Homo sapiens: one gene and its partner. The protein of the gene in region 1 purifies or fractionates together with the protein of each later gene. This does not show direct contact. Each region holds a gene or a part of one and is shown on either strand. Other genes may lie near its edges.

Region 1 (3,500 bases):
ATACAGTATCAACGCAACAGAGTAATTGAAATTGAAATTTCCAAGCTTATATTGGTTAACAATTTTCTTATAAAATACCACCATTCTAACATATAAAATGTGCAACTATTCTACTATAAAGGTCATTTCCAAATAGCTAAATCAAAACTTCATCACTCTTAACTTTCAGTAACTTAAAAACATATCCCTGGCCGGGCACGGTGGCTCACGCCTATAATCCCAGCACTCTGGGAGGCCGAGGCAGGCGGATCATGAGGTCAGGAGTTCGAGACCAGCCTGGCCAACCTGGTGAAACCCCATCTCTACTAAAAATATAAAAATTAGCCGGGCATGGTGGCATGCGCCTATAATCCCAGCTTACTCGGGAGGCTGAGGCAGGAGAATCGCTTGAACCCAGGAGGTGGAGGTTGCACCACTGCACTCCAGCCTGGGCAACAAAGCAAGACTCCATCTCTCAAAAAAAAAAAAAAAATCCCCATTTTAATCAGTATCTCTACATCGAAAATTTAAATTCTAAATTCCTGTCAAAGCTCTACTTCCTCTATAATTTAAAATATAAATTCCAATAAAACAAAATAATTTGGACTCTACTAAGAGTTGACCAAATTGAGATGTAACTTAGAGTAGAAGGCAAGAGATTTATCATTGGATCTTTCTGCTCCAGGTTACCCAGCTGGGAGTAACCTGAACAATAACATTAGTTGACAATACCTACTCTTCCCTGTCCAACTGAACGCTTTAGCAAATTATAATTCTGTTCCAAAATACTATGCCACCAAATAACAATACTTTTAATGATCTGGCTGATTACCATGAAAGAGAATATTTTTCTGGGCTAGTAATACAGAACACAAACTATATATATTCAAGTAAATTATGTCAGTGTGTAAAAATGAACTCAGAAGTTTGAAATCAAGGTGAAAACTATTCTTGAAAGGAAATTGAATCTTTCCAAGACTCACTATATAAAGATAATTTTTTAAATGGACCATCACAGTCTCAAATAATTGCCTTGCCCACTAAACATATTATTATTTCTGAGTCATGATACTTAATTGTTATGAAAAAATAATAATGTAAAAAAATTACAGTTCATAAACTAAAAAAGGCTTTCAAAAAATTTATTTTGTATCTCTATTCTGTCTGCTTTAATCCCCTCACAGGACCTAAATCTTAAATCCACTGTTCATGGCAGGCATTCAAATGTTTGCTAAATAAATAATGAATAACTGAAGTAAATGGAACAAATTACCTTACAGTAATATCTATATTTCAAAAAGAAATTTACAAAGAGGAAGATGCTATTTAAGCCAGTTACACACTCTTCTCCTCACCTATAATCCCATGATTCAAGGAAAACAGTATTTCTGTCCCAAATTAAAGCACTCTGGTATAGCAATACAACTGATCCCTACCTTGCCTATCAGAAAATGTTAGTGACAACTGAAATGAAAATTAGTTAGCACAGAAATTATCTTTAAGGGAAAAAAATGGCATGTAGGTGAAACTTTTTTTTAATGGACCTCAGATATACAAAACTAGATTACTCCTAATCTTTGGTTCCTAACACATTCTTATCACTGGTCCAAAGTGAATTTTCAAATCTGTTCTGCAAAAAAAGAAAAATGGACACAATGAAGACGGGCGGGAATTTGTCCTTTAACAATTAGGAAATGTGCTATGAAGTTAACACCAAGGACATTCACGATTCTGTACTTGAGTGCAGTGATAGCCATCATACATTACTGCTCCTAAGAGGTGGTCAGTATGGCTATTACAAAGACTCTGGAGCCAGACTGCCCAAATTCAAATCCCAGCTCTGCCACCTAATATTTGTGTGACTTCAGCAAGTTACTGAAATCTCTTTTATGCCTCAGTTTCTTCACCTGTAAAATAACAGTAGCTATTTCACTGCTGGTACTGTTATGTTATTAATAACTAACTAACCTAACAGTAGCTAGTTATGTTAGAGGATTAAATGAGTTAATATATATACAGCATTAAAATAACGCCTGGCACATAGTAAATAAACACTTTAATAAATAAACTCACCATTAACTACCACACTCTAAAGTTAGCTCAAAAATTTCCCTTATAACATGGGTAAAAACTTTTTTTTTTTTTTTTTTTTGAGATGGAGTCTTGCTCTGTTGCCCAGGCTGGAGTGCAGTGGCACAATCTAGGCTCGCTACAACCTCCGCCTCCTGGGTTCAAGCGATTATCCTGCCTCAGCCTACCGAGTAGCTGGGATTACAGGCACCCACCATCATGCCGGGCTGATTTTTGTATTCTGTAGAGATGGGGTTTCACCATATTGGCCAGGCTGGTCCTGAACTCCTGACCTCAGGTGATCCACCCCCCCCTCGGCATCCCAAAGTGCTGGGATTACAGGCCTGAGCCACCAGGCCTGGCCTAAAAACTTTTAATCACAGTATCCCATGGATTCTCCTCAGTACTTATCAATGTGAAAAGAACACACTAAAGTTCCAATGTCTTCACAAAAACTCCTCTTAAACGTATTCCAACACAGTTGATCTCCCAAAAGGATCAAAACCACTCAGCTGCCGAAAATCTAACATACAGTTCCTTCCAAAGGTTAATATCACCAAAAAAAAACAAAAAGTTAGAATTGATACCAGAAAAAGTAAAGAGGAACTTGCTCGGGTTACTCCACGCAGTCTTTGAATTTCATCTTCACCTTACAGTTGGCCAGGTCAATAGAAATACCTGCATTAGCATCCCAGAGAAGACAGAACTGTTTCTGTTCCAAGCAGAGTGCCTGGCCCACAGTAGGTGCTCAATGACTATATGCTGAACCAATTAATTCCTAAAAGTGAAACTACTCCTGACCTATACACCTTCCTTTCTCCATCACTGTCAAATAAACTCTGGATAATTCTTTTCTTTTTTTGAGAACATCTAGGTTCGTAACAGCAAACTATCAATTCTGCATAGCAACTGACTGCGTAGTTCGAAGGAGAGGAAAGAAAATAGTTAAAATACAATAAAAGGAGCAGACATAATCTGTTCAAAGGAATAATCTCTCATCCTAGAGTTCACTGTATTACGATTTTTAATGTAAACTTTTCATATCTTTGGGGGAAGTCACACAGGAAATTCACTACTGAAAATAAGACTCCATTTAAAAATATAGAACAGAGCTCACCAACTCTAATTGAATAGATACTATCATGAAATTAGTTTTCCAATGAGATTAGTACATATACAAGTCTACCTGAAGAAACAAACTCTATTTTCCAACATGTCTAAATTTAGTTACTTCAGTTAACACTATAGGCAGGGTGGCTCATGCCTGTAATGCCAGCACTTTGGGAGGCCAAGGTGGGCGGATCACCTGAGGTTGGGAGTTCGAGATGAGCCTGACCAACAGGGAGAAACCCCGTCTCTACTAAAAATACAAAATTAGCCAGGCATGGTGGTCAGCATGCCTGTAATCCCAGCTACATGGGAGGCTGAGAAGGAAGAATTGCTTGAACCTG
Region 2 (3,500 bases), on another chromosome or scaffold:
CCTCATTGCAAATTCTTACTTGAGGGAAAAAGACAGAATTGGAAAACTCACCCCATTTGGGGCACTTCTCCCAACTTTGACTCCCCTGCATAATTTACTTGTTTTTGTTTGTTTTACAGAGTCCAGTGAGCAGGAGGGGTGGGCCTTAGTGGGCTTAGCTGCCCCTCCAGAGCCAGGACTTCTGTGTATTAAATTTGTGTTATTGGACCTCATGTGTGGAGAGCCGAAACTCATTCTTCCCTATTTGTAACATACTGACATAACCAGTCTCTGTTATGTTTACTCATCCCCATTTCCATCCCCTCCCTCCTAGAGGAAACTGTATAAACAAGTGTGATGTTTGCACTTAAATATTTATGACTCCTTTAAAAAATAAGCTTTAAAATAAGCTGCTTTATGTGTGGATTTGTTTTTAGCTTGCTGAACTGACATTGTGCTAGAGATACTGTTTTGTTTCTTTTTTCATTCAACAATATACTTTTTAGTTATGGTCGTGTCTCTATGTGTAGAATTAGTTTATTGCTTCTAACAGCAGCACAGTATTCCATAGTAGGCATCTATCACATTTTGCAAGGATGGTCACTGTGTTACTTCCAACTCCCTGATGTCATAAGCAAACCTCTCTATGTGTAATTCTTATTAGCTCTACATCTAAAGTGTTACCTTGAATCTGCCAATTCAAGTTAACTTTTTTCCTTTTGTTTACTCTTTCTCCCATGGGCTGTCTCCATAGAGCAGCCAGAAGGATCTTTCTGAACCATAAATCTAAAGTAGGCCTCACAGGTATTTAGCTGGAAAAGGGAGGTTCTAGGAGTCCATTGACCACTCTTGGAGAACTGCTGCTCTGCTGCATCTTGAGCCACCTAGAAGAATGTCTGATGCTTTGTAGTTACAGAGTAATGTTTTTTAGCTGTCATACTGACTGGTCTTAGATTTTGGAATCTGGATTCAGCTGTATACCAGAAATCTCTGGCCAGGTTAATTCATGCAAGATAGCATCCATCCTTTAGCTGTGGAAGCTAAGTATCATGTTGCCTAAATAAGATAGGGCATCAGGTTTTAGGGAGAATGCTGAGGCAGAAGGAAGATGAGTCAGATTAGGGCCCACAGACTATTCCTTTCCCTTAGAGATACCCTTTAGTTGCCATCCCTCTGTCAGAGAAAGAGAGAGGCTGGGACATACCAGGTTACAAATCCAGGGAGTCTTCTGAAGGGTCATAGAACACCTTTATTGCTTCACCTACTTTCTTTTATTAGATGAATCTAGGAAGGAATGTCTACTTGGGCTGCAAAGTGATCATTTATGTGTACTGCTTACTCTTATTACAATGAAGTGTGATAATAATTGTACATGTTGTGTTAGATCAACTATTGTTATTGTTAGGTGATTACAACTTACATTCTGTTTTTATAGCAGGCTTCTTAGTTTTCTGCAGAGGTAACCAACTTGGTTATAATGTAAAAGAATGTATAGAAATTTTGCTCCAGACCTTCCTTTGTGGTATATATTTTTATGTTGTATTAGTAGCAGGACCCAGTGCTCCATAAAGGATAATAGTTTCCAGTACACTATCCCTCATGATGACTCCTTAAGTGGTTCATCGTCTGCATCTTCGTGTGAACCAGTGAGTGATTTTCCAGCATCTTTCCGAAAATCTACCTACTGGATGAAGATGAGAAGAATCAAGCCAGCTGCTACTTCTCATGTCGAAGGTATCAATATCAGTGTCTTATTCTGAAGACGGGCCACTTCCTAAAGTTATAGTTTGAGATTGTTATAAATACCTCTTAAAAGTATTAAATGGCGGCTGAGCGTGGTGGCTCACGCCTGTAATCCCAGCACTTTGGGAGGTCGAGGCGGGCGGATCACAAGGTCAGGAGATCGAGACCATCCTGGCTAACATGGTGAAACCCCGTCTCTACTAAAAATACAAAAAATTAGCGGGGCCTGGTGGTGGGCGCCTGTAGTCCCAGCTACTCAGGAGGCTGAGGCAGGAGAATGGCATGAACCTGGGAGGCAGAGGTTGCACTGAGCAGAGATCGCACCATTGCACTGTAGCCTGGGCGAAAGAGCGAGACTCCGTCTCAAAAAAAAAAAAAAAAGAGTATGAAATGCCACATATTTGTTTCTCATTAGTGATTTAAAAAAATTTAAGGTGTTAGGCAATTGCATCCTGTCCCATTAGCTTCATGAACTGCTATGTGATAGAGTGAAATTCTGCTAATCTTACTCCTCTAGATTATATTTAGCATTTGATTTTCCTCTTTGTAGTATTTGAATTCCCCTTTTCTTCTTCTTTTTTTTTTGAGACGGAGTTTCACTCTTCTTGCCCAGACTAGAGTGCAATGACTCGAGCTCAGGCTCACCGCACCCTCCTTCTCCTGGGTTCAAGCGATTCTCCTGCCTCAGCTTGTAATGCCAGCTGAGTAGCTGGGATTACAGGCATGTGCCACCACACCTGGCTAATTTTGTATTTTTAGCAGAGACGGGGTTTCTCCATGTTGGTCAGGCTGGTCTTGAACTCCTGACCTCAGGTAATCCGCCCACTTTGGCCAAAGTCTGTAATCTCAAAGTGCTGGGATTACAGATGTGAGTCACCATGGCTGGCCCCCCTTTTCTTCTAGTGTGATCCTCTGTTGATGATTTAGGGGCTGGTGTAAGGATTATTCAGGGGAGAATATTCTGGATCGTCACAATCTCAAGGGTCCTTGGTGGCTAGCCCTCTATCTTGAGCAATTCTTATCCTCTTGTTAGCCTCAAGTCAAGATTAAGCAAAACACATTGCTTGAATGCCCTTATTATTCATAAGGAACAATGGATGATTTGGAATAGATAACAATATAAAAAGAAAGGGAGAGTGGGTCAGTTAATGAGAAGTTACACCAACTTCTCTAAAAATGTCACAGACATTTCTCTGAGGCCTGTGTTCACTGATGATCTTTCCTTTTGATGGTCTTGTGAATGATGTTTTGAAGACAGGCCTAGATGTTCATTTACAAAGTGTGCTGAGTTTTTGTTTTGTTTTTGTATGGTACTTCAGGGTCAGGTGGAGTATCAGCCAAGGGGAAAAGGAAACCCAGGCAGGAAGAAGATGAAGACTATCGAGAATTTCCTCAGAAGAAGCATAAGCTTTATGGTAAGGCAGTAACTTTGCTACTTCTTTTTCCTTGGGTGACTGAGCTTTATTCTTTGAGGGTAAAGGAAAGAGAAGCCTTAGTTTGAGCCCTTCAGTGACCTCTGAGCCCTTTGAATTGTTTGGGAGGGAATGGCCTCCATCCTGCCTCATTATACCCTTTCATTCTGTCCTGACTTAGGCAGTCAGTCGGTTGAGGGACTGGGAAATAGGGTGTTGAAGAGGAGGAGAGGGAAGAGATTTTGGTATTAGCAAGGGTGACATGCTGGGCTTCAAGTTTCTGTCTTATGTCAGGGAGGAAGCAACGGCCTAAAACTCAGCCCAATCCCAAATCCCAGGCCCGTCGTATTCGGAAGGAACCACCAG

The links. The genes of interacting proteins can lie anywhere in the genome.
Region 2: the proteins of KAT6A (region 1) and ZNF512 purify together in Homo sapiens (affinity purification with mass spectrometry, with the first as the bait; one large-scale study listed by BioGRID). This does not show direct contact.

What each region holds. Positions count from the first base shown.
Region 1 is NC_000008.11:42,041,988-42,045,487, forward strand, and holds part of KAT6A (histone acetyltransferase KAT6A), read right to left. Parts: intron 1,589-3,500; exon of another isoform or gene 1,517-1,588; intron 1-1,516. UniProt on the Homo sapiens protein: Histone acetyltransferase that acetylates lysine residues in histone H3 and histone H4 (in vitro). Component of the MOZ/MORF complex which has a histone H3 acetyltransferase activity. May act as a transcriptional coactivator for RUNX1 and RUNX2.
Region 2 is NC_000002.12:27,596,542-27,600,041, forward strand, and holds part of ZNF512 (zinc finger protein 512), read left to right. Parts: intron 1-1,525; coding exon 1,526-1,713; intron 1,714-3,041; coding exon 3,042-3,137; intron 3,138-3,428; coding exon 3,429-3,500. UniProt on the Homo sapiens protein: May be involved in transcriptional regulation.